3 separate regions of the Homo sapiens genome follow, and regions 1 and 2 are each linked to region 3. Evidence: fine-mapped expression QTL. A gene starts in region 3. Each other region holds a variant in brackets. All regions are shown on one strand. Distances are from middle to middle. Region 1 overlaps OSBPL7 (oxysterol binding protein like 7). Region 2 overlaps SKAP1 (src kinase associated phosphoprotein 1). Region 3 holds the start of SCRN2 (secernin 2).

The links.
Region 1: its variant is fine-mapped to the expression of SCRN2 in whole blood (INTERVAL, PIP 0.94).
Region 2: its variant is fine-mapped to the expression of SCRN2 in whole blood (INTERVAL, PIP 0.94).

What each region holds. Positions count from the first base shown.
Region 1 is chr17:47,800,568-47,808,756 of GRCh38, reverse strand. OSBPL7 (oxysterol binding protein like 7) reads left to right here. Exons shown (of 23, transcript NM_145798.3): 22 at 97-219; 23 at 358-1,385. The coding sequence ends at 466. Among named protein-coding and RNA genes, the nearest start is that of OSBPL7, 17 kb to the left of the region's middle. RefSeq lists an enhancer at 1-357. The variant T/A (reference allele first, on the strand shown) is at 4,430.
Region 2 is chr17:48,162,288-48,170,501 of GRCh38, reverse strand. It overlaps SKAP1 (src kinase associated phosphoprotein 1), which reads left to right. Exons shown (of 13, transcript NM_003726.4): 11 at 7,933-8,033. Among named protein-coding and RNA genes, the nearest start is that of MIR1203, 9.9 kb to the right of the region's middle. The variant A/G (reference allele first, on the strand shown) is at 4,909.
Region 3 is chr17:47,836,382-47,844,474 of GRCh38, reverse strand. It overlaps SCRN2 (secernin 2), which reads left to right and starts at 3,202. Exons shown (of 8, transcript NM_138355.4): 1 at 3,202-3,267; 2 at 3,632-3,805; 3 at 4,103-4,284; 4 at 4,832-5,031; 5 at 5,469-5,684; 6 at 5,779-5,944; 7 at 6,025-6,205; 8 at 6,473-6,783. The coding sequence starts at 3,632. The coding sequence ends at 6,631. LRRC46 (leucine rich repeat containing 46) reads right to left here. Exons shown (of 8, transcript NM_033413.4): 7 at 8,000-8,093; 8 at 6,756-7,725. The coding sequence ends at 7,355. RefSeq lists enhancers at 1,303-1,352, 3,175-3,730, 3,634-3,733, 7,193-7,740.

The sequences.
Region 1 (8,189 bases), 36 kb after region 3:
GCTTGTCTAGAGGACAGAGTTGGGCAGAGACAGAGGCCTTGGGTTTGGGGGCCCCTGCAGATGGGCAGTTCCCCTGAGTTTGATCTGGATCCTCAGGTACCTGGAGGAGGGGAACATACAGGCCGCTGAGGCCCAGAAGAGAAGGATCGAGCAGCTGCAGCGAGACAGGCGCAAAGTCATGGAGGAAAACAACATCGTACACCAGGCTCGCTTCTTCAGGTGCCTCGGCCTCGCCCTCCGCCCTGGGTCTCCCCATGAGCCCTGCTTGGAGCAGGGCAGGTGTGGGAGGCAGCACCTTAGGACCCTAGCCTGCCTTCTAGATGTTCACCCCTCACTGCCACCGCCTTCTCCCACCAGGCGGCAGACGGATAGCAGCGGGAAAGAGTGGTGGGTGACCAACAATACCTACTGGAGGCTGCGGGCCGAGCCAGGCTATGGGAACATGGATGGGGCCGTGCTCTGGTAGCCCTGGCCCCGGGGGCAGGAGGCTCTGGTTCCTCACTCCTCCTGCCTCCACCCCCTACCATGGACACATGGGTGAGGCCGGGCTCCCCGCCTCACTGCCCTTGAGACCAAAGGGGCAGCCCTGGCCCTCCCTCCCCTCTGCTGGCCAGAGGGTCTGCATCTCAGCCCACCCCCAACCCCACCGTTTGGGGTGAGAAGCAGAATCTGTGCTTCCCCAGTCTCCTTGCCCCAGACAACCAGCATGTAAGACCCTTCCCGCTTCACCATTCCGATTCCTGTCCCCTTTGGGGTACTTGGGGGAGACTCTGGCTCCCAGGATCTGTTCCCTATTTCAGTGCCTTCCTAGGACACAGGGGACTCCTTGACGCTCCCCAGGCTTTCTGTGCCCAGGCCTCTGTCCCCAGCGGTGAGGTTGCAGTGAGTGAAGGAGAGGAGGTGATCTGTTCTCCCTCCCCTTCTGCCCATCTCCAGCATCTTCTTCCCCTTCCCTGGCCCTGCAGGGCCTTCTCCAGCTCCCTTTGGTTAGTCCCTGGCCATCCCTCCTGTCCTGGATCCCTTCTCCCTAACTGCAAAATGCCTGCAGCTTCCAGCTCCTTCGTCCCTGATCCTCAAGCGGTTCCCTCCCGTCTCAGCTCAGCGGATCCCCCAGAGTGGAGGAGGCCTCTCCATGAGGAGGGGAGCAGCCCAAGGCACCTGTCCTCTGACCCACCGGCAGCGAGTGCGCAGGTGTGAGTGTAAGTTCATGTAGGAGAGTGTATGCGTGTGCGCCTGTGCCCTGCTTGCAGGCAAGCAGGGCTCCCTCATGTAGCCCCGCCTTCCCCCTGCTGGGGGTCCACCACATCGCTGCTCTTTCTCACAGTCTGCCTCTGATGAGGGCGAATTGCTATGACATTCCAAGCTCCAATAAAGACTGTCCCAGACTTTGGCCTGTGACCATTCATTGAAAAACATGTGGGCTCATGGTCAGTGGAAAGCCCTCTGCCACTGTCATGGGTAAAATGAATTGTGTCCCCAAGAAACGTTTCTAGCCCCCAGGCATGTGCATGTGACCTTAGTTGCAAATAGTGTCTTTGCAGAGACAAGTTAAAATGAGGTCACATTGGATTTGGGTGGCCCTACTCCAGTGACTGGTCTCCTTATAAGTAGAGAGAAATTTGGGCACGCAGACGTACGCAAGGGAAGACAAGTGTGTGAAACAGACACACGGGAGTCGGCCACGTGGAGACGTAGGCAGAGATGGGAGCGATGCATCTGAAAGCCAAAAGTGCCAAGGCTGCTGGCAACCACCCGAAGCTTGGAGAGAAACAGAGAGATTCTCCCACTGAGCCTCAAGAAGGAGCCAACCCTGCTCACACCTGGCCTCAGCTATGAGAGAATACATTTCTGTTGTTTTAAGTCACCCAATATGTGGTGCATTGTTACAGCAACCTCAGGAATTGAATACAGCCACCACTAACCTGAGCCAAAAGCCCAGAGGCCATCTGCCCTCCCGCTTGATGCCCTGTCACTTCTACCCCAGGTGTCTCTCTGCACTGGCCCCTTCTCTCCATTGCACTGGCTAGGCTGGGCCCTCATCAACACTTGTCTGGACTATTGTGGTGGCCTCCAGGGTGGTATTTCTTCTTCTTCTTCTTTTTTTTTTTTTTTTTGAGACAGAGTTTTACTCTTGTTGCCCAGGCTGGCGTGCAATGGCGCGATCTCAGCTCACCGCAACTATGCCTCCCCGGCCCAAGCAGTCCTTCTGCCTCAGCTCCTGAGCAGCTGGGATTACAGGCATGCATGCCACCATGCTTGGCTAATTTTGTATTTTTAGTAGAGACGAGGTTTCTCCATGTTGGTCAGGCTGGTCTCAAACTCCCGACCTCAGGTGATCTGCCCGCCTAAGCCTCCCAAATGGCTGGGATTACAGGCATGAGCCACCGCGCCTGGCTTCCAGGGCGGTATTTCAAGAGAAAATGTGACACCTCATGTCTGCTTAAAATACATCCCCTGCTTCCCAGTGCCTAGAGGAAAATCCAAACTCTTCAACCGGTAGAAAAACCACATGGCCCCTGGCCCCCTGTCTGGCACAGAGTGCTGGCCCCCACACTCAGCACCCTAAGTCAGGTCTGTGCTAGTACTCCACTTTGACCCCCCAGGATCAATGAGTGTTCAAGGGCGGAAGGGAGGGAGGAAGAACAGGACCAGCTGCCTTTCCTCCCCGCTGCCCTCGCCCCTGGGGCCAGCTCTGATTCTGAAGCTGTGTGATCTTGGTCAGGTTGCCTTCCCCTTCTGTTTAGAGGCTTCAGTCTCTCATTTGGCTCCTTTTGTGTCTTAAAGAAGAACATCTGTGAGGTGACCCAGGCTCCTCATTTCATTCGTTCTCTCTTAACCCCTCTCCCCCACTCCCACCCCACCACCTGCAGCAACAGCGACCCCAGTCCTGCTCTGGTCCGATGAGTGTCCCAAGAGGAAGTCATGCTTTCTTTGGGGGGGTGGCAGAGTGGCAGGAACAGAGGGGACCCCTGAGCTACGACAGCCCTTCGCATTGTCATCTTTTTCTTCCTCCTCATCCCCTGCGGAGGAGCAGTGGTCCACATTTCCAGTTTATTTACAGAGAATGTCAAAGTTAAAATGAACACACTTGTCCTGTCACCACATGCCAGAAATAACCTCAACCCATTCCAAAAAAAGCCAAGGCCCTCACACATTCAGGATATTTTTAAATAGCATGTGCTGCCCTGCTCCGGGCCCTTTCCCCTCAGAGCACCACAGCACCTGACCGACCAGCCCGTAACAAACTGCCACGTATTTTAAGAACCAGAGTTTAGGCTGGGCACGGTGGCTCACACCTGTAATCCCAGCACTTTGGGAGGCAGAGGCGGGTGGATCACGAGGTCAGGAGTTCAAGACCAGCCTGGCCAAGATGGTGAAACCCCATCTCTACTAAAAATACAAAAATTACCCAGGTGTGGTGGTGCACACCTGTAATCCTAGCTACTCGGGAGGCTGAGATAGGAGAATTGCTTGAACCCAGGAGGCAGAGGTTGCAGTGAGTCGAGATCGTGCCAGTGCATTCCAGCCTGGGCAACACAGTGAAACTCCATCTAGAAAAAAAAAAAAAAAAAAAAAAAGAGAGAACCAGAGTTTAAAAGAGACCAAATTCCCAAGTTATTTTTTCAGAGGAGACAAAAAAAAAAAAAAAAAACTCAAAACTCCTCTGCCTCTGTGGCTGTGCCCTCTAGACCAGCATCCTCCCCCAAGTCCTTTCCCAGGCACAGCCCAGGTGCCACCTCAACAGCTGGAAGTGGTGGGTAAGGTTGTTTTTGCTTCTTCTGGGGCCCAGCAGATGAGGGGGCAGTCCCATCTGAAGGACTGTGGTCTCAGAAATGTTCCCCATCTGGCCAGGGCTTTGTGGGTCACCGCTGATGGGAGCTCAGGCCAGGCTGAGGGGAGCCTGGGGTTCTGGCCCCAGTCTGTGCTCCATGGACAGAGTGTGAGGGGCCCACACCAGCCAGGGGTTCAGGGAGCGGTGCCAGCTCCTGGCTGCCAAGAATCCCAGGGTGGGGTGCTCAAGTCACTGATCTGAGAAGGGAATGGTGGGCCCCCTTCTCAAGCCTGTCAGCCTAGTCCAGATGTCCCACAGGAGTACTCATTACCACTGGGTCGTGGGGAGCCAAGCACAGACCCAGATCTCCTGCCTTGGTTGGAGGACATGGTGGGCTTGGGACAAAGGGGAGAATTTGGGGGCTTAATGGCCCTTGACTAGGCTTGGAGTGCAGTAGTTTGGAGAACCAGGGATCCGCTTCCCTGGATGAGCAAAGGAGGATGGAGCTTGGACAGCAAGGGAAATGGTCAGGCCAAGCAATGCTGGCAGAGGGAGAGGAAGGTAGGCAGGAGGTGTCTCAGTCCTCATTTTGCCTCTTTGGACCCTCCACCCCCAAACTGCTCCACCCAGAGGGATTTAAGTAACTTTAAAAAATTT[T/A]ATTAATCATTATTGAATAGCTGATAGGGACACCTAGGTTGGAAGGAGCAAAAAAAAAAAAGTCAAATATAAATAAAACCCCCAATTCCTTGCATCTTCTGAATAAAGTGTGTGTGTGTGTGTCTGTGTGTTTGTGTGTGTGTGTGTAATAAACAGAGAAGGGAAAGAGTGCTGAACCAGGTGAGAGGCCCAGGCATTCACATTCCCTCCATGAGGTCAAAGTGGAGGGGTGTTCAGGGCAGGAGGAGGCTGCTGGGCCAGCACTGTGACTCCCAGCTTCACCTGGATGGCATGCAGCCCAGGGGGATGTGTGCAGGGGAGTCCCACCCTCCCTGTTTCGGGGAAAATGAAGGTAGTGGGGACAGTGGTGGGGTAACCCCCAGCCCCTGACCAACACCTGCTGAGAATGCAGAGATCTTACGTCCGACCTCAATTCCACCGGCTCCAGTCTGCCCCTGGAATGGTGCACAGCTCTCCTATTCTACGCTGCCCTGGTCTAGTCCCAGTTCTGACACAGGCATTTTAAAGATCCTGGATTACATTGCCCGGCCATATCCAATCTCTTTAGGGAATGCTCAAGGGACCTTGCCATTGGGTCATTAGTTTAATGGTGTCTCCTTACTGCAAAGGACACGTTTTATAAGTGATTTCCCCTTTTAGAGACCCTCTAGTACTAGCAGGGGTAGAAAAGGAGGAGAGGCTTAGCACTCTCCCCCTGGGACCCATCTCTGTTCCCCTTAAGGTGGTCAGGGAGGGCAGTGTAGGACTTCAGAGAGACATTCACAGGCTGGCCTGGGCCAGGTCTCGCTCATCCAATGACCTATTTCTGGTACAGACACTTAACCAGATCACCTGGCCTTATGTGGTGGACCAGGGACTGGTCTTCCTGATTCTTGCCACACATACCCTCATCTTCTCCTCATCTGTACCTTAAGAGGCATTACCGTCAGAGGGGAACACTGAGAGTTATCAAGATCCCGACAGGCCAGAGTCAGGTCTGCATGGGACTCAGGCAGGTGGTTCCAGGGGCTGGGAGAGCATGGCTCCACGGTTGGGGGTTCTAGAGCACTACTCGTGTCTCTCTCTCTCTTCTTTTAGAGACAGGGTCTAACCCAGGCTGGAGTGCAGTGGCACGATCATAGCTCACTGCAACCTTGAATACCTGGGCTTCAGCAATCTTTCCGCCTCAGCCTCCCAATTAGCTAGGACTACAGGCGCACATTACCACATCTGGCTAGTTTTTTTTGTTTGTTTATTTAATTTTTAGTAGAGATAGGGTCTCACTATGTTGCCAAGTCTGGTCTCAAACTCCTGGGATCAAGCAACTTTCCAGCGTTGGCCTCCTAAAGTGCTGGGATTACAGGCGTGAGCCACCTTGCAGGGCCCACGTCTCATTAACACATGTCATCACATGGTGCAAAGTCTTCAGGTTGCTGAAAGATGCCTCCAGGCCCTAAGGTATGTGGAGGGGTGGCTTTGATGAGCAAGTCCAAACCATGGGCACTATGGTCCAGGATGCCAGGCCCCTGGGGATGTTGGGCCTTGCTGACCCCTAATATGAGAGGCCCCTCAAAATGAAGCATCTGTCCAGAGGAGGGTAGGTGGGTGGGCTGGGCTCTGGGAGGGGTGTGGGTGAAGAAGAGATTGGAAGGGCCGGGGCAGGAGCAGGAAGAAGAGAGAAAAGCCTGAGAGTCAGCCACAGTCTGTCTAGGACGAAGGTGGTGAGATTCTCCAGGCATCCTCAAGAGGGCACCCCGGGCTCTTGAAAGAACCAATTTAGTCTCATCCCAAGCCCCACCTGACAGCTGACAGGTGGCTGCACCACCATCTGCGTGGAGTATCAGGCCTCCAAGGATGTGGCCCTGGCTGGACCCAGCCCAGCAGTGATCAACAGCAGCAGCAGACACTGTTACAGCCGCATTCCTATGGACTGCCGGCCATCCCTGCCTGCCCATCTTCATCTTCAAAGAGAATGCACAAGTCAGGAAACCCCTGTTCTGGGAGACCCAGGTGTCCCTAGCCACTCCCAAAAGCTGCCCAGATGGTCTGGGGGAAGGAGGTCAGGCCCCCTTTGCTGGTGCCTCTTCACGTCCAGGTGACATCCCTCCCAAGGACAGCTGGCCAGGACACCCCTCCTCCAGAGCCCTCATAAGATGGTCTTTTCCCTAAGTTTCCACTAGAACCTCTCCTGCTTCTGTCACCCCAGAGCCCGTCACACACTGGGATGGGAAACCCTGCATTTAGTTCTGTAGGCTAACGTTGGGTGAAGTGTGTGTGTGTGTGTGTGTGTGTATGTGTGTGTGTGTGTGTGTGCGCGCACACATGGTTTGAAGGAGGGAGTGTCCACGGTGCCCTCCTGGGAGGGATGAGAATGAGGACAAGAAGGAAGGGAGCTATTGAGCCAGTGCCAGTTTAGCAGAGAAGCCTTGGGTTCTGTGGGAAGCCATCTGACCTAGGACCCTGAGGAGGGAGGGCGAAGGTGGGAGATGCGGAAGGCAGGTCACATTGGCCTTCCCTCCCTTCTCCTCCATTTAGCAAGATGTTACAGGCCCAAGAGAGACACTCTCCTCCAAGCTGGGCCTAGTGGGCCGCAGCCCTCACAGGCTGGCACATTCACCTCCCACCACCTCCCATGCAGCCTGGGCGGGGAAGAGCCCTGGACCAAGAGCTAGGAATCCTGAGTTTTGGCCCTGGCTCTGTCATTTATTCCTTTCACCTCCTGAGCCTCAGTCTCCTCCTTTGTAGCTTGGGGATGATGCTGCTGGCCTTACCCCTTCACCGGTGTCTTGTTTGTCATAGGACAGAGAGGACTGAGGGTTGTTTTAGCTGTGGAGCACAGGACAAGGGTAGCTTCAGATGACCTGGGCCAGGGTCACCACCAGCTCTGCCACTCCCACACCTGGGGGCCTTCCCAAGGCAGCAGCAATTCCCCCTGAGAGAGACAGAAGCAGAGTTTAGCGTGTGAACCTGCAGACACCAATTGGTGCCTTAACTCTCCTGAGACTTTTGCCAAAAATAGGAGGATGCAAAGTGTCTCCCCAGAAAGGCTGGGGGCTCTGCCATTGGTCAAAGGGGAGGGGACTGCACCCCTTATCTCTGTGGTCCCTCTCACCATCAATTCCTGAGACAACTGAGCATCCTGTGTCTGTCAGGTGACTGATCCCCCTCCCCAGTTAAGGAGGCTCAGGCTGTGGGAAGCTCACACACAGGAGAGACATCTCCAGCTACAAGGGGGCAGAAAGTTCTGGAAGGGCAGGAAGTCCCAGGCTGGCAAAAATACAGGTTGAGGGGGCAGAAATGGCACCTGCCCCCAAGTACCACACCTGGGACCGACATAGGGTGGCCCCAGGATGGGATGTGGCCGGGGGACACATGGGTCCCGAGGTGCCTGCAGGCAGGCGGGTGTGAAAGTCAGCCTCCCAGGAGCAGATGGGACAGAGCCCGGCCACCCAACCAGACTGGCTCAGGTGCAGCAGGCCCAGTGGCTGTGGGGCAGAGCCTGAGGACCAGAGATGCCCAAGCCGGAGGGACGTGCCATGCCGCAGCCTCGGTCGCCTGTGCCTGGAGCGGCGAAGGCCCCACAAGGGTATTTTATTTTCAAATACCTTTGCATTTCTTGAATAAACCCACCTGGTCATGAGGTATTATCGCTTTTATGTGTCACTGGAATCAATTTTCTAATAATTTACGTGGACTCTGCATCTATGCTTATGAAAGAAATTGGACACTAATTTTTCTTTCTTATAATATTAGATTTTTC
Region 2 (8,214 bases), 330 kb before region 3:
GAGGGTACCTGTGTGTGAACCCCAAAGCCCTAAATAAAGTGACTGGGTAGGGAAATACCTAAACTTTAAAAGCAGCCATACATTCACTTTAATTAATGTTCCCAGAACAGCCAAGATTTATCCTAGAGCGGGTGGGAAGCCAAACCAGACATTTATTTTTTCCTATCAATATTTCTTATATCAGTACAGTGAAAATAGAATTGCCTCATCTCTAAGAGATCAGAGGATTGAGAATGGAAAGAATGGAAATGTCTCCTCTCTGAGAGGCCCGGAGATTGCAAGTTCAGAGGGGAATGGAAATGTGTCAGATCTGAAAAGTGAACACAGGGTGAAAGATAAAATTCCTTGGTGATGCTGACTTCTGATAGCCTGGTTTGATTCCAGGCACATTTGGAAATGAATATGTAACAGGTTTGTTGAATATAAAATTACATCTTATTCATCCCAGACTGTTAACCATGCTTCAGGCTGTTAGTGAGCCCATCCTTTCTAAGGTCAGATGCCCCTCTGAAGCCTCCTTAAGTGGACCAAGGACCTATTCCATGGTTGTCAGTAAAGGAATGCTGCACATTGCAAGGGCCACCTCAAGGACATTCGTTCCGTCGGCAGAGCCCTAATCATGACTGATTTAGATACTGGCTGATATTTTTCTTAGGGAGTCTATGAAAATCTTAAGCCTAGGAATTCTTGCCCTCTTTCCCTCCCTGCTCCTTCTCCATTATCTAGCCCTGTCTTTTCCTATTCTCCTCTCTCCTTTCCTTGTGCTTTTTCTTCTCTCCTTATCCATCCAGCAAAACCCCCATTTCTAGGTTCATTCTCTACAGAAAGTGAATACTTAAAAGGTTCAGGACCCAACTTCCTAAGGGTCCAGCTTCTCCCAGGGAAGAGAAGAGACAACGAAGATGCAGCCTCAGAAGTCATGCGCCAAAGCAGGAGAGAAAGAAAGCAGTGGAGGCGGGTGTGATGCACGGATGTGAGTGTAGCTGCAAGTACCTCATGATAGTGAACACATGTGATTAGGTCCATTCTGAAACCTATTTCCTTCTGTTGTCTACTTACTGTACAGAATTCCAAATGAAAATCTGTTCTGACCCGCCCATGTTCCACATATATCTTTTCTCAACCAACTTCCATCACCAGTGCAGAAAAGAAACACTTCATGTGGACAGCTTGGGTGGAGTAACTGTAAGCTTCCTATGGCCAATTTCATATTAAACTCCATTCAGAAAGCATTGATCTTTTAGCAAAGTCTAGAATCCAGTTTCAGACTCCTCCCTCATCTCATTTCCTCCTTCCACCTCTTTCTCTAAGGTTATATCTGGGAGGTGAGAGGAGATTTATTTCTTAACTGTTCCTACAGCTATAATTCAAGTAGGTTTAAAAAAAAAAAAACCTTTTGTTCCTCATGCTTCCTGCCTCCAAAATAAGTGTTGTTAAAGTATAGCAAGCTCTGAATATGTTTCTATGGTTTACACTTCCCACCAGTTATAATGATTGGTGACTTAGTGATTAAAAAACAGGAGGACTTTTTGCTCTCTCTGCAGAATCTGAGGCAGGAATTTTTATTATTTGTGTTTACTTATTTATCGATTGATTTTATATACTGCCTTTTCTCCAAAGGCGCTATAGAAATGGTGAAAAATACATAAATCCAAATGTCATCATTTAGTTTTGTAACAATAAAAGATAGAGGTCTGGGGGAAGGGCAGGCAGCCCCAGTGAAGGCATTTAAAAGGCAGGGAGCTCTAGGACAGTGTGAATTCCTATGTCATAGACAAGCTACACAAGTTTGGGCTACTTAGTTTTTCTCAGGTGTGTGTTTTTTTGTTTGTTTGTTTGTTTTTTGAGATGAAGTCTCGCTCTGTTGTCCAGGCTGGAGTGCAATGGCGCTATCTCCGCTCACTGCAACCTCTGCCTCCCAGGTTCAAGTGATTCTTCTGCCTCAGCTTCCCGAGTAGCTGGGATCACAGGCACGTGCCACCACGCCTGGCTAATTTTTGTACTTTTAGTAGAGACAGGGTTTCACCATGCTGGCCAGGCTGGTCTGGAACTCCTGACCTCAGGGGATCCGACCGTCTTGGCCTCCCAAAGTGCTGGGATTACAGGCATGAGCCACCACGCCCAGCCTTTTCTCAGGTGTTAACATGCTTTTGGGGAGAAAAATATATATAAGCAAGTTGACCTTTCCCTTCTTCCTTTTTTCCCAAAAGATGCTATGGCTAGCAGAGTTACTTTTAAAATCCAAGTACTTTTCTCCAACCTCGATGGATCCTGTTCCTTGAATGCTGTGCTTTTTTCTCTGATGGAATTGCTAACATTCTGAAGGCCTAACTAGATCTTATCAGAATAGGGGGGAAGGGATTCGGTTCATCCTTATTGAGTGTTAATGACCCTGTAAGATGTAATTTCTTTTATTTCATTCTGTTACCTAGAAAATCTATCACAGCCTTGTAGTATTGATTGCTCAATCTATAAAGAGCTCAGTTTACAGCATGACTGTTAGTAACAGGGTTATTTTAATGAGTGACTCTTCAACACCTCAGAGTTTCACTAAATTCCAACCCATCAGCCCAGTAGTCTAACATTAAGGGTCTTAGGTAATGAGAACTTATCACCTTTCCCTATCATGAAAAGGTAACCTCCAGGTAACCAAAAATAAAACTTCCTCTGTGTTCGTTTTTTATAGAAATTACTGGCCATTTGTTTGCATGTGCTATGTCAAATAAAAAGCAACCCTGGAGGCACAAATCATCCTTAGATACATAAAATCCCTGACCAAGGAAAACCTGAAACAGACCCCTCCCACCCGTACCTCCTTCAGTCTGCCCCCAACCCCAACTCTGAAATTGTGGAAAAACTAAGCCAAAAGGAGACACAGACCACACTATTGTGGTCTTATAAGCAAATGATTGCTTTTAGGAGGGCCAAAAAATGGTTGCTTATACCATTCCATCTCTGAGGCCCCCTTCTCACTTTAGTGCGCGCCAATAGAGTGAACTACTACATGAAAGAAACAAAGGGAAACCACAGAGGTGTTTGCAGCTCTTACCTTTTGAAGCCTGTTTTCCAAGACCAAACATGAGCTGATTATTAACCAGCTAAAATTATGGCCCAATGAAAAGAGGAAATGACATGAAAATCAGAATCTGAGTATACCCCACTTCCAAATCATACTTATACCACTAAGATCATAGTAATTTCAAAACTCAAGATTAAAGGGCTATGAAATAAGCAAATGGTATTATCCAATTGCTCTTCCTCCTCTGGTGCCACAGTCATTGGGGGCTTGGCAAATATTTTCATAGCTTTCTTCTGAAATAGTTAATAAACTATCAAGGCTGGGCGCAGTAACTCACATCTGTAATTCCAGCACTTTGGGAGGCGAAGATGGGAGAATTGCTTGAGCCCAGGAGTTTGAGATCAACCTGGGCAACAAAGTGAGACCCTGTGTTTTCAAAAAATTAAAAAGATTAGCTGGGTGTGGTGGCATGCACCTGTAGTCCCAGCTACTCAGGAGGCTGCAGGGGGAAGATAGCTTGAGCCCAGGAGTTCGAGGCTGCAGTGAGCTATGATTGTGCCACTGCACTTCAGCCTGGGTGACAGAGCAAGACCCTATTTCAGAAAAAAAAAAAAGGAAAAATTGTCAGAGTTTACTTGAATGAACTCAACATGTTAGACCTTTCTGACCTGGCTTAAAGAACATTTCAAGTCACTTCCAATGGGTCACTACTTTGGCGTTTTTTGTCCAAGTCTTACCATCCCATCCTCTCGTAGGACTGGCTTTATCCATCTTCATGTTTTGTCTCTCTTTTCCATAACTTAAGAGGTTGTACTCAATGCCAGGCCTTATTGACACGATCATTTTAGTAATCAAGAAAATGTAAATAACATGCTGGCCTGCCTTTAGCCACTTTTCCCTGATCACAGCCTGAATTCTGTCGCTACCCAGTGACTCCCAAACATAAGCTGAACTGTGGAAGGAACAGTCAGATTTTATTGTCCCTAAGGAAGGAGAAAGGCAGAGAGATGTCCTGGTCCTTTTTACCTTAAAACTTTGCTCGTCACACAGGCTAATTTTCAGCCATTGACTCTATCATCAGTAGCACCAACTTGGCCTCAGTTACAAGAGAAATGACTGTCACTAGTTGTAAAGAACCTGGCATGCAATGACAAATGCTTTGCAATAAATAGAAAAAAGAAACCAATACTTTTTTTTAACTTGTTCTGTTGCTATTCTTCTTATGACATTTTGGTTGCTTGGAGTTTAGCTTCCCTTACATAGGATAAAGAGAGTAAGATGCTGCTTTTTTTTCTCTAGAAAAAGCCCTTCTCAGCTCTGCTAGCAATTTAAATGCAGTGATCATACCCATTAGCTTCTCTATCATTGTAATTGTTGTTAATTGTTATAACTGTTTTAGTTATTAGTGGTGTCATTATTGCTCTAGGTCCTCTGTCTGTTTTATGCTGAATATATTAGTGCTTTGCTTTTGAATTACCAGGCTTTATTTAGTGCAGAGTTATGTTTTTCGGAGAGACATTGAGAAATGCTGGCATTAAGCTTTATTCTTTTGTTTTTCATTCCAAATGGACAGACTGGAAAAAAAATAATTAGATGGAATAATGTCCTTAAAATGAGAATTAGGATGTTTTGAATTAATTAAATGGTCAGAATGCTGCACCATTTCTGATTTCAGACGGCTGCCAGAGTAGTGTAAGCCTAAAGGAATCTAAATCCAGCCCATAGAGGCAAGCCTCACCCTTGGGCTCTCAGTTCCTCTCTCTGCTCTACAGAAATCAAAGTCGGCCGGGCACAGTGGTTCATGCCTGTAATCCCAACACTTTAGGAGACCGAGGTGGGCGGATCACCTGAGGTCGGGAGTTCAAGACCAGCATGACCAACATGGAGAA[A/G]CCCCGTCTCTACTAAAAATACAAAATTAGCTGGGCGTGGTGGCACGTGCCTGTAATCCCAGCTACCCGGGAGGCTGAGGCAGGAGAATCCCTTGAACCCAGGAGGCAGAGGTTGTGGTGAGCCGAGATCATGCCATTACACTCCACCCTGGGCAAAAGGAGCAAAACTTCGCCTCAAAAAAAAAAAAAAGAAAGAAAGAAAGAAAGAAAGAAAAGAAAAGAAAGCAAAGTCTCCTCATGCATTCTCTTGTTTATAGGATGAGTTGGGCAGGTTTAGGGAGAAGCTGGACTAGCCCTGCAGACTCTGGGCTTTTAAGCTCTTCCTGGTGCCAAGCTTCAGGAATGAAGCCCTCCTCCAACTTATCTCTTCCCCTCTTCAAGGTCTTTAACACCCACTTGGCCAGAAAAGCCTTTTCTGACCCCTCAAACTATGTTAGATTCCCTATTACACACAGCGTCCTCAACTTCTCCTTCACAGACATATCATAATCATAAATAAACATTTGTGTAACTGTTTTTTCCATGGTGCTTCCCCGACTAGAAGGTACCCTTGAGAGGAGGGCTCATGTGTGGCCAATGTGGGATTCCCAGTATCTAACACAGTCCCTGGCATTTAGTAGGTACTGTATACATGTCTGTTGGATGATGAGAATGAATTAGTGAAGTTGCATGCACACATACACATAAATGCATATCACATGTGTGTTAAACAGGAAGTCTGCAATATGGAGTCACCTTGCCCAGCTAAGGAATTATCCCTCACTGATTTCCTTAATAGAGAATACTTCTAGCTAGCTAGCAAGTTCAAACTTTTCCCAGTTTTTAGCCCTTCATTCTGCCTGTTTTTTTGGAGCTGTTCTACTTCTGACTGAAGTTCCCTATTCTTGGGCTGAGCTAAACCATCTCCTGGATTCCTGAACTCTGTCTTCTTTTGGCCTTTAATATCAAAGACCTTTTCTATCTTTATTTTTTTCCTGGAAGGCTTCTGTTTTTCTCCTAGCTTCTTGCTTTCCCTGTGATCTTTTGTGCTTTTAGAATAGATCTTTTTCCAGATGTTCTCCCAGGCCCATATATACCCAATGTCAAATCACTTTTTATGTATACACCAAAAAGGCACTCAATATTAGGACCTATCCCATATCCAGGCACACAGTAGGGAACCGTACTCCAAAGTGACTATCTGCTAGGCCAGAAAAGACCAAGATAACCTTGTTAGTCTCCTTACCACTTAGAAATATTGTTATGGTTTTAGAATCTATTTTTACAAAAATGGTTTTCTCTACCATATATAAATCCATGAAAAATATTGATGTTAATATTCTTTCATTCCTGAGTTTAGTCAAAATCTTGGGGTAATTAATCAACTCCATTAAAATGGAAAATTCATAATATATCCTCTGGGAAAACTACTTTCACTTTTCAGGGATTGATATTTCTCTATTATTTCATGTACTTAATATTTCCAAAAATGAATGCTTTGTCTATTCAATAACTAACATATTTCTCCCAAAGTATTTTTCTTCCAAACATATTATCAACTCTGTGGCAGAATGTTTTCACAGTAGTTATCTTGTTTGCTGCCCTCTGTTGTCTACTGCACACACAGACAATTTTATGTGTGAAGAAAACATGCCTGAATTTCTATATGGTTGACATTTTTACTTTTGTTTGCAATATCTGAGTTTTAACTAAATAGTTCTCTCCCTCCTCTGTTTTTGTACCCTTTAAGATTCCTACCAAAATTCTCTTCCAGAGACATATAGGGATTTTGTCCCTCCGTGCCTTTATTATTTAAATTGCTCGTAAGTCAGGAATAAGTAGAAAAAAAGCAAATATAGGGAGGGTGTCTGTGCCCCTACTGCCCACTTGCCCTATCCTCAGCCACCAATACTATCACTGCTCATGGGAGGGTAAAATGAATAAAGGGAAAGGTGGAAATCTATAGAACAGAGTCCCCCAAAATCATGTGAATTTTAATTAGAACCCAGGACTCCTGACTCCCATCTATTGAATTTCATCTTTTGTAGGTGCTTTGTTCACAGCTCTGATACAGAGCACCCCAAGGAAAAAGGAGCATGCCTGGTCTAGTGGGCATTAGCTCTCCTGCCATTCAAATCCCCAGATCCTCTCCCACTTTGTACTCTAGTGTTTAACCTTTCCGGGTAGAAGATCAATACAAATTCTTCATTGTTAAGAATCGATGGCTGTCCTGTGGCATCATTGCCATCTAGTTCTGCTGAGAAGCTCAGTAAATCTCTCCAGCTGCTTCTAAAGCTTGGTTTGTCGTCTTCAGTTGCTTTCATTTTTAATGCAGATCACTTTGGTTTCTGTTCCCCTGGGGCTTGCAGATAAATCTTGGCAGACATGTTCAAGGTCTACAAATGAGATGCTGGAAAAGGGCCAGCCCACCCAGAATTTAGTTGTAATGGATGAGACACCCCCTTGGTTCCACTTAAAGACTGGGCTATTCGTTTCAGTATTTATTGGTGATTACCTCATATAGTACCTAGGTGGGAAGTTCCCAGGACAAAGTTCCTATGGACAAAGAAGGCCGAAAAGTGAGCTGTGATCCAGAAGCCTGCTGGCTGACTAAGCCTTTCTTGTAAATAGGCAGAAGTCACAGATTTACTCTGATCCTTCAAATGCATAATGAAGAGAAAAACTAGATAGTTAGTTGCCCTGGATCAGGAAAGTCTGGCGGGAAACCTCTGCACTGCTTACTTACAAACCAAGTGAAAAATTACCTGCCTGATTTTCTTTTATTAATAAATAAATATATTTATCATATTGTTGAACGGCATCCTACTAGGAGTGATCTGTAAATATTTAATGTTAGTTAATGATCTCCTTCTCCCATAGTCCTTTGCTCATGCTGAGTGTTTGGCTGTATCTCATCTCAACTCCCCTTAATCTGAGGTTTCCTAGGGGCAATATCAGAACCCTGGTTTCCATTTGCAGCAAAAACATGGGTACCTCGGAAAAAATAGAGTCCTTTTAACTTTGATTTCTCCTCTCTTTGATCAGTAGACTATGCCAGTTACTACCAGGGCCTATGGGATTGCCATGGTGACCAGCCAGATGAACTGTCCTTCCAACGGGGTGACCTCATCCGTATTCTGAGCAAGGTAAGGACAGAAAGTGTGGGGCTTAAATAGAAAGTCAATTTTTTCATTCTTGATTTAGTCACCATAAACAGAATTATTCCATGTCATACACTTCCCATGGCTCCCTCACAATATAAATTCCCATTTATTCATAATTGTTAGGAAAAGTTTTAAATGAAAATCCAGATTCAGGAACCATTTT
Region 3 (8,093 bases):
ACCCAGGATGATCCTTATCAGGGACAAGGCGATGAAAGGCAGCCGAGCTATCTGATGGGCTCCTGCCCAGCTGGAAAGTATGAGGGAAAGGCTCCTACTGTAGCTCACAGCTAGAGACCCACCATGGTTACACAACCACAAGGCACACAAACATACCCGCACTGGACCCACGTGCACCCGCCCCCAGAGATATGCAGAAATATCTATCTGTACACATCTTCCCAGGCCTCCCAGTGCTTGATACAAAGTTGGTGCCTAATTCACATCAAATGAGTAGAAAGCCTCATGATTCCAGAGCCCCAAAGCCAGGAAGGTTGACAGAAGATAGGTTTTGGGCTCCAAGGGGGCTGGGGGGCGGGGGTTACTATGTTCTTTCACCTTCTCATTCTACCTTTTTGCCAAAAGTATTATTTTCCCCTAGTGGGATTTCTAGATCCACCACTCTAACCCTAACCCAATTTCTCGAAGCCAAATCTGGTACTCAGGCTGGCCCATCCCATAACTTAATTTGGGATCCTGGGGTCACAACCTTTATGGCTACCTTAGGATAGGGGCATCAGAATGAATGATTTAGGGGTTGTAGAGGAAACCAGACTGGTTTGGGGCCAATTGTTTTGTTTCCACCTGCTGCTAGATTTAGAAGGCTGGGAGGAGGAAGGACAGGTGTGTTTTCCTAAGACCTTATGCCAGCCCCACTCCTCCAGGTGCCTCTTTTGTCTTCCTGGTTCTAGGGGAGTTAGACCCCAGGAACTTGGTGAGTCCCCTCCTCCTTTACCCCCATCGCTGCCCCCAGGGACAGGAGGGCAGCTGTGCGGCCGGCTGGGCCTGTCTGGGCAGGGCTGGGGCCACCCCTCCTCCCCATGCAGCTCCTCCCGCTGACCTGCATTCTTAGCAGGGGCCTTTGGTGGGGCTCTGACACTTGCTTCCTTGCTGGAAATGCTGCCTGGCTGGCCTGCCCCCCATCCCCCCCACGACGGAACCCAAAGCCACCTCTGACCCCCCTCAGATGGGGTGCCTGGCAGGAGGATCATGGATGGCCCAGGAAAGGGTTAGGGAAATCAGAACATCTGGGCTGGCTCTCTGGGTTCCTCTCCTGGGAAGTGGAAGTAGAATCTACTCCTAACCTCTAGGGTGGGTGAATGAAATAAGAAATGAGAAAGTGACAGAGAAGAAGACAGCCTGGAAACTGCAACCTGGGGGTGCGCTGTGGCCTCTCTCTGCCTCTCCTCCTGCCTGTTTCCGCCCCACAGTGGGAAGCCGGGAAACTGCAGGAGATGAACCCGCCTTCCTGCAAGCTGCTTCAGGTGCCCAGATTTCTCAGCACGCAGCTTCGATGTTTGCTTCTGGAATGACATTAATTGGCAACCTCACAATCCCTCCCCGACACTGTATCAGAAACAGCCTTCACCTTCCCATTAATCCTAGCATGACTGACCGCCAGCACCCTAGCACAGTAGGCTTGAAAGAAGGCCAAACTCCACTAAAACACTGTTAGAATTGTTTTCTTTCTTTCTTTCTTTCTTTTTTTTTTTTTTGAGACGGAGTTTTGCTCTTGTTGCCCAGGCTGGAGTGCAATGGCGCGATCTCAGCTCACCGCAACCTCCGCCTCCCAGGTTCAATCGATTCTCCTGCCTCAGTCTTCCCAAGTAGCTGGGATTGCAGGCATGTGCCACCACGCCTGGCTAATTTTGTATTTTTAGTACAGATGGGGTTTCTCCACGTGAGCCAGGCTGGTCTTGAACTCCCAACCTCAGGGGATCCGCCCACCTCAGCCTCCCAAAGTGCTAGGATTACAGGCATGAGCCACCACACCCGGCCCACTGTTAGAATTGTTAAGCAAATACAGTAAAGTCAGAGGATACAAGGTCAATGTACAAAAGTCAATAGTGTTCCTATACACTAATAACAAACTATACAAAAAAGAAATCAAGAAAATAGTCCCATTTACAATAGCTACCAAAATAATAAAATATTTAGGAATAAATTTAACCAAAGAGGTGAAAGATCTGTACTCTGAAAATAAGATATTGATGAAAGAAACTGAAGAAGACACAAAGACATGGAAAGATATTTCATGCTCACGGATTGGAAGAATTACTATTGCTAAAATGTGCATACTACTCAAAGCCATCTATAGATTCAGTGCAACCCCTAGAAGCAGATAACCTGCAGCATCTCCCCTCTCTCCATTCTGGAGGGCTCCACAGAGCAAAAGGGTGTAAGATGCATTTGTCTTAATGATGGCTATGGAGAGATGGTTTGTAGAGAAAAATGAACTGAAAATCAAAACATTTGGGATCAGAGTGTACCTCCACATGACTGTGTGTCACCTTTGGCCAAGACTTCTTTGTGGTTTCAGTTTCACTACAGGTAAAGGCACCAAATCTTTGAACTAGAAAGTTCTAAATTTCCCTTTAAAGCGATCTTCCTATGGGTTTGAGCACTATCAGACAGATAGGTCCTCTGGGATCAGATGGGTTTTGTGCACACTTTCCCTTATTTATTTATTTTAAGAGACAGGGTCTTGCTCTGTCACCGCGGCTGGAGTACCGCGGTGTGATCTTGGCTCACTGCAGCCTCAATCTCTCTGGCTCAAGAGATCCTCCCACCTCAGCCTTCAGAGCAGCTGGGACTAGAGGCACGCACCACCACGCCCAGCTAATTTTAAAATATTTTCTGTAGAGGCGAGGTCTTGCTGTGTTACCCAGGCTGGTGTTGAACTCCTGGGTTCAAGTGATCCTCCCACCACCGCCTCCCAGAGTGCTGGGATTACAGGTGCGAGCCCCCCGCACCCAGCCTCCACCACTCTCGTATTCTGTATCTTATTCCCCTAGGCGCCTCCAGCCTGGGATTGCGCCTCTGGGATTCAAACCAGGACTCAAGTATCTGAGGTTCTTCCTTAATCTCCAGATGTCCCAGCAGTCCCCTTTCTCTGACAAAGTCTCCCTTTTCACGCGGGATCCTTTCCACCCCCAGCTCCAGCTCCCCGCAGTGACTCCGTGGGGTTAGCAGCCTTTGTCAGGCCTCAAATGGGCGCCTGGGTAGGACAGGGAGCCAGGTGGGACTCGCAAGGCCGCTCTGCTCCGGGAAGTGGTGCAGGCGCGCGCCCTGGTGGAAAACGGCGGAGCTGCAGGCTCCGTTCCGGCTCCGACCCCGAGGCCGAAGGCCTTCCAGGTCACCTGAGAGTCTCCGCCCAATGGGGCGGCCCTGGCCAGAAGCGGAGGAGGTGGCACCCGGGACCGAGCTGGGGTCTTGGAGGAAGAGAGGGTGAGGGGAATACAGTACTGGGGGTGAGAGAAGGGTTGGACAGAAGAGGGTCGGGTATCTGGGCATGCGCAGGGCCGCAGGACTCTTGGTGGGGTAGCGAGGGGGACGGTCCCACGACTGCTCCGAAGGGCCGGGACTCCCAGTGGGGGCGGGACCCCCGGAGTGCCCGCCTGCGGACTCCCAAGCCTGGAGCCTGGGGAGAGGGTGGGCACCTCCGTTCCCGCACACCCGTCCATGGTGTGTGCGCCGAGCGTCCAGGAGCCACGGCGGTGTCTTCCTTGCGCGTCTTTTACACGTGTGGGGGTAGGCTGCTCCTCGGGGCTGAGCCGTGGCCAGGGTTATGGAGAGGCCCGCCTCTCCCCAGATGGCGTCGTCGAGCCCTGACTCCCCATGTTCCTGCGACTGCTTTGTCTCCGTGCCCCCGGCCTCAGCCATCCCGGCTGTGATCTTTGCCAAGAACTCGGACCGACCCCGGGACGAGGTGCAGGAGGTGGTGTTTGTCCCCGCAGGCACTCACACTCCTGGGAGCCGGCTCCAGGTGGGTTAGACTTTATGGGGTGCTGGGAGGTGTGGCAGATCTCTGCATTCTTTTAAGACCTTCTTCCCTGCTCCCCACACCTGGGAGGCTGCCAGAAGTAGTGGAAGAGCATGAGCTTTAGGTCTACCAACCTGGACCTGAGCTCATTATGTAGCCTCAGTCTACCTCAGTTTCCTCTTCTGTAAAATGGGAATGAGACCTTCCTCAAAGGGATCTATAAGGTAATTGGCAGAGTGCCACACTCGAGGGGCCGCCCCTCTATGAGTGGACGCTTCCTTTCTCCTCCCTCACCTCCAGTGCACCTACATTGAAGTGGAACAGGTGTCGAAGACGCACGCTGTGATTCTGAGCCGTCCTTCTTGGCTATGGGGGGCTGAGATGGGCGCCAACGAGCATGGTGTCTGCATTGGCAACGAGGCTGTGTGGACGAAGGAGCCAGTTGGGGAGGGGGAAGCCCTGCTGGGCATGGACCTACTCAGGTGCAGACCCTGCCCTTCCTCATCTGCCTGACACACCAGAAATCTAGGGGCTGAGTTTTGACCTGGGCCCATCCATCCCTCCCCCAGCCTGGTTCACAGGGGCCTCCTCCTCTCTGCAGACTTTGCCCTTGTGCCTTCGTGAAGAAGGCTGCAGCAGCAGCCACCTTTGGGCCTCTCCTGGCCCAGAAATAGAGCAGTGGTTATTTATTTATTTTCAGTTGAAATCTTACATAGAGTCCCAATTTATAAAACCAGTAATAGTGGATGGAGCAGCTCTGGGTGGAGAGAGGTTAGGGGCTCAGGACACTTCTCTCTCTGAAACTGTGTTTCAGGCCTTTTCATGGAACCCTCAAAGCATAGCACATGGAACCAGAGCATTGAAAGCCACTGGCATAATTGCATTTGATACGATCAGTGCCAGCAGATTTGCTGTGTGACTTGGGCCTATCACCAAACCTCTCCGGGCCTCTTCTGTCCCCTGGAGCTTCTGCCACCAGCCATTGATCCCTCTGTCACCCTTCTGTCCCTTGGCCCTCTCTTTTGCCAGGCTGGCTTTGGAACGGAGCAGCTCTGCCCAGGAGGCCTTGCATGTGATCACAGGGTTACTGGAGCACTATGGGCAGGGGGGCAACTGCCTGGAGGATGCTGCGCCATTCTCCTACCATAGCACCTTCCTGCTGGCTGACCGCACTGAGGCGTGGGTGCTGGAGACAGCTGGGAGGCTCTGGGCTGCACAGAGGATCCAGGGTGAGGTGTTCCCTTTCTCCCAGCTTTGGGAAGTGGGAGAGATGGTAGGGGCAGGGAGGGGCCCGATCCAGGTGCAAGCCTGTCAGGACATCCAGGGAGATGGGAGATGAGCCCACTTGGGAATTCTCCTCCCCTTCACTTGGTTAAGTCTTCCGTGTGCTACAGCCTGTTGCTTCCTCTGGGAAGCCTTCCTGGACTTCCCTGGGTGGTCAGGTTTCCTGCTTATATGCAAGCAGGTACTTCTTTTTCATCGCATTCAACACAGTTGCATGCTTACATTTATCTCTGTGATTATTTTGTCTGCCTCCCCCACCAAAACGTAGGCTCCATGAGGGTAGGTAGTTCTCTTCTCCACCATGTTCTCAGCACCTCGCCCAGTGCCTGGCATAGAATAGATGCTCAATGGTAAATGAACCACTCCCCGATCTCCTCCACAGAGGGGGCCCGCAACATCTCCAACCAGCTGAGCATTGGCACGGACATCTCGGCCCAACACCCGGAGCTGCGGACTCATGCCCAGGCCAAGGGCTGGTGGGATGGGCAGGGTGCCTTTGACTTTGCTCAGATCTTCTCCCTGACCCAGCAGCCTGTGCGCATGGAGGCTGCCAAGGCCCGCTTCCAGGCAGGGCGGGAGCTGCTGCGGCAACGGCAAGGTTAGTGAACGGTGGAGGGGGCTGGGGGCCAGGAGGGCCACAGCAGTGCCAGCCACTCTCCCCTCCCACAGCTTCCCCCTCTACTCCTTGGCAGGGGGCATCACGGCAGAGGTGATGATGGGCATCCTCAGAGACAAGGAGAGTGGTATCTGTATGGACTCGGGAGGCTTTCGCACCACGGCCAGCATGGTGTCTGTCCTGCCCCAGGATCCCACGCAGCCCTGCGTGCACTTTCTTACCGCCACGCCAGACCCATCCAGGTGGGAAGAATGAGGGTGGGGAAGGCTGGGGAGAAGAGAGGATCTGATATATCTCCGTGCTTCCATCTGTGCCCCTCTAGGTCTGTGTTCAAACCTTTCATCTTCGGGATGGGGGTGGCCCAGGCCCCCCAGGTGCTGTCCCCCACTTTTGGAGCACAAGACCCTGTTCGGACCCTGCCCCGATTCCAGACTCAGGTAGATCGTCGGCATACCCTCTACCGTGGACACCAGGCAGCCCTGGGGCTGATGGAGAGAGATCAGGTATCCCCCAGGGAGTAGGGGCTACCTTGAGGGGATGATAGACCTCCCCCACTCCCAGTGGGACTCTGGAAATATGAAGGAACTAGGGAGTGGAAGAGATTTCAGAGCTGGGGAGAGGAGTTCCTCCCTTCAAAGCCAGCAACTGCCTTTGGGGAATGTCGGGGGGTATCTCCTTTCTCCTGCTTGTGTGAGGTGGTACACAGTCCCCCCTTCACCTGGCGGGAAGCCTGTCCCGGACAGACTCATCTCAGCTTTCCCTTGGGGCAGGATCGGGGGCAGCAGCTCCAGCAGAAACAGCAGGATCTGGAGCAGGAAGGCCTCGAGGCCACACAGGGGCTGCTGGCCGGCGAGTGGGCCCCACCCCTCTGGGAGCTGGGCAGCCTCTTCCAGGCCTTCGTGAAGAGGGAGAGCCAGGCTTATGCGTAAGCTTCATAGCTTCTGCTGGCCTGGGGTGGACCCAGGACCCCTGGGGCCTGGGTGCCCTGAGTGGTGGTAAAGTGGAGCAATCCCTTCACGCTCCTTGGCCATGTTCTGAGCGGCCAGCTTGGCCTTTGCCTTAATAAATGTGCTTTATTTTCTCTTCAGTGAACTTTATCCCAGGACCAGTGGGGGTGGGAGAGCCAAGTGAGGCCCAAAGGCAGCTGTGGGCTGGCTGCGGGGCCTGTGGTTGTGTACTCATTCCTATGAGTGGGTGAGTGATGGGGACTGGGCAGGAGGACAGGGAGGGGACAGGAGCTGGCTGCTGTTGGGGATGACTAGGACCACAGCTCCTTGGTCCTTGGCTTGGACCGGGGAAGGGCACTCGCTAGGGGTGGCAGTGAGATGGCATGCCTCTTCCATGAGGTGGTGCCCGCTTCCTGCCCAAGTGGGAGCCAGGAAGCCAGCGGGGGCCTGAGGCATGCCTGCCCTGTGGGTAGCTCCCGAAAGATTCCAGACTCGCTCTTTAGAATCAGGTGGCTCACTGAGCTCTGTATTTTGTTTCCTGGAGCTTTCACTGGTTTCTTCCCCTGAGATACCCCAAGTGACATGAAAAGCATACTCAGGGCCTAGAGACACTTTACTGGGGATGGGCTTCTGTCACAGGTCAGAGGTCTGAGAAGAGGGGCAGGCCCCACTCCTCTCCACTAGTAGAGAAAGGTTGACAGAGAATCATTTCTTGCTTCTCTTGGCCGTAGTTTTGGTTGTGCTGGGGGCCTCAGCCACAGAGGCCTTGGGGGCTGTGGCTGCTCGTGCCCCCTTCCTTCCCCAGAAAGAGCTTTGGTGGCCCCTGGGAATCAGACTGCATGGTTTCTTGGTGGGAGAGGAGGCCTGGGGTGAGGAGACGGCCTCAGGGACTGTCTCCTCCCCTTGCGCAGGAGTGGCAGAAGGGCTGCTGTCCCCAGCCATGGGCACCCCAGGTAGCAGGGGCAGGTCGGTGAGGGTGGGCTGCATCTCCATCCTCAGCAGGTGCTCTGTCAGGGCCGTCTGTTGCCGGTGCTCCCTGTGCCTGCTCAGCTCCTGCTCCAGCTCCTTGAGGAAGCCTGGGAGGGGCCGGGGGTGGAGGGTACAGGGTGGGTGGAGCCCTGGGCTCAGCAGGAGGGTCCCTGGGCTCAGGGAAGTCTCTGGCTGGCCCCTTGTCCCTTGTGGGAAGGAGCCTGAGGCTGGGGCCCAGGACTGACACCTGGCTCTGGCCCAGATGTTGATCTGAACTTGGGGCTCCCCTCCCCGGACGCCACTGCCACCTTAGCTTCCCTCATGTCCCACAGGGCAGAGGTGGGCTCTGGGGAGGCTGAAAACCTTGGAAAGCAGGGTCACCTCGTTCTGAGCAGAATGGGCCACTCAGCTCTGGGAACTCCTCATCGCTTGAGGCTTCATCCTCCTCATCCGAAATCCAGCGCTCCACCACAGG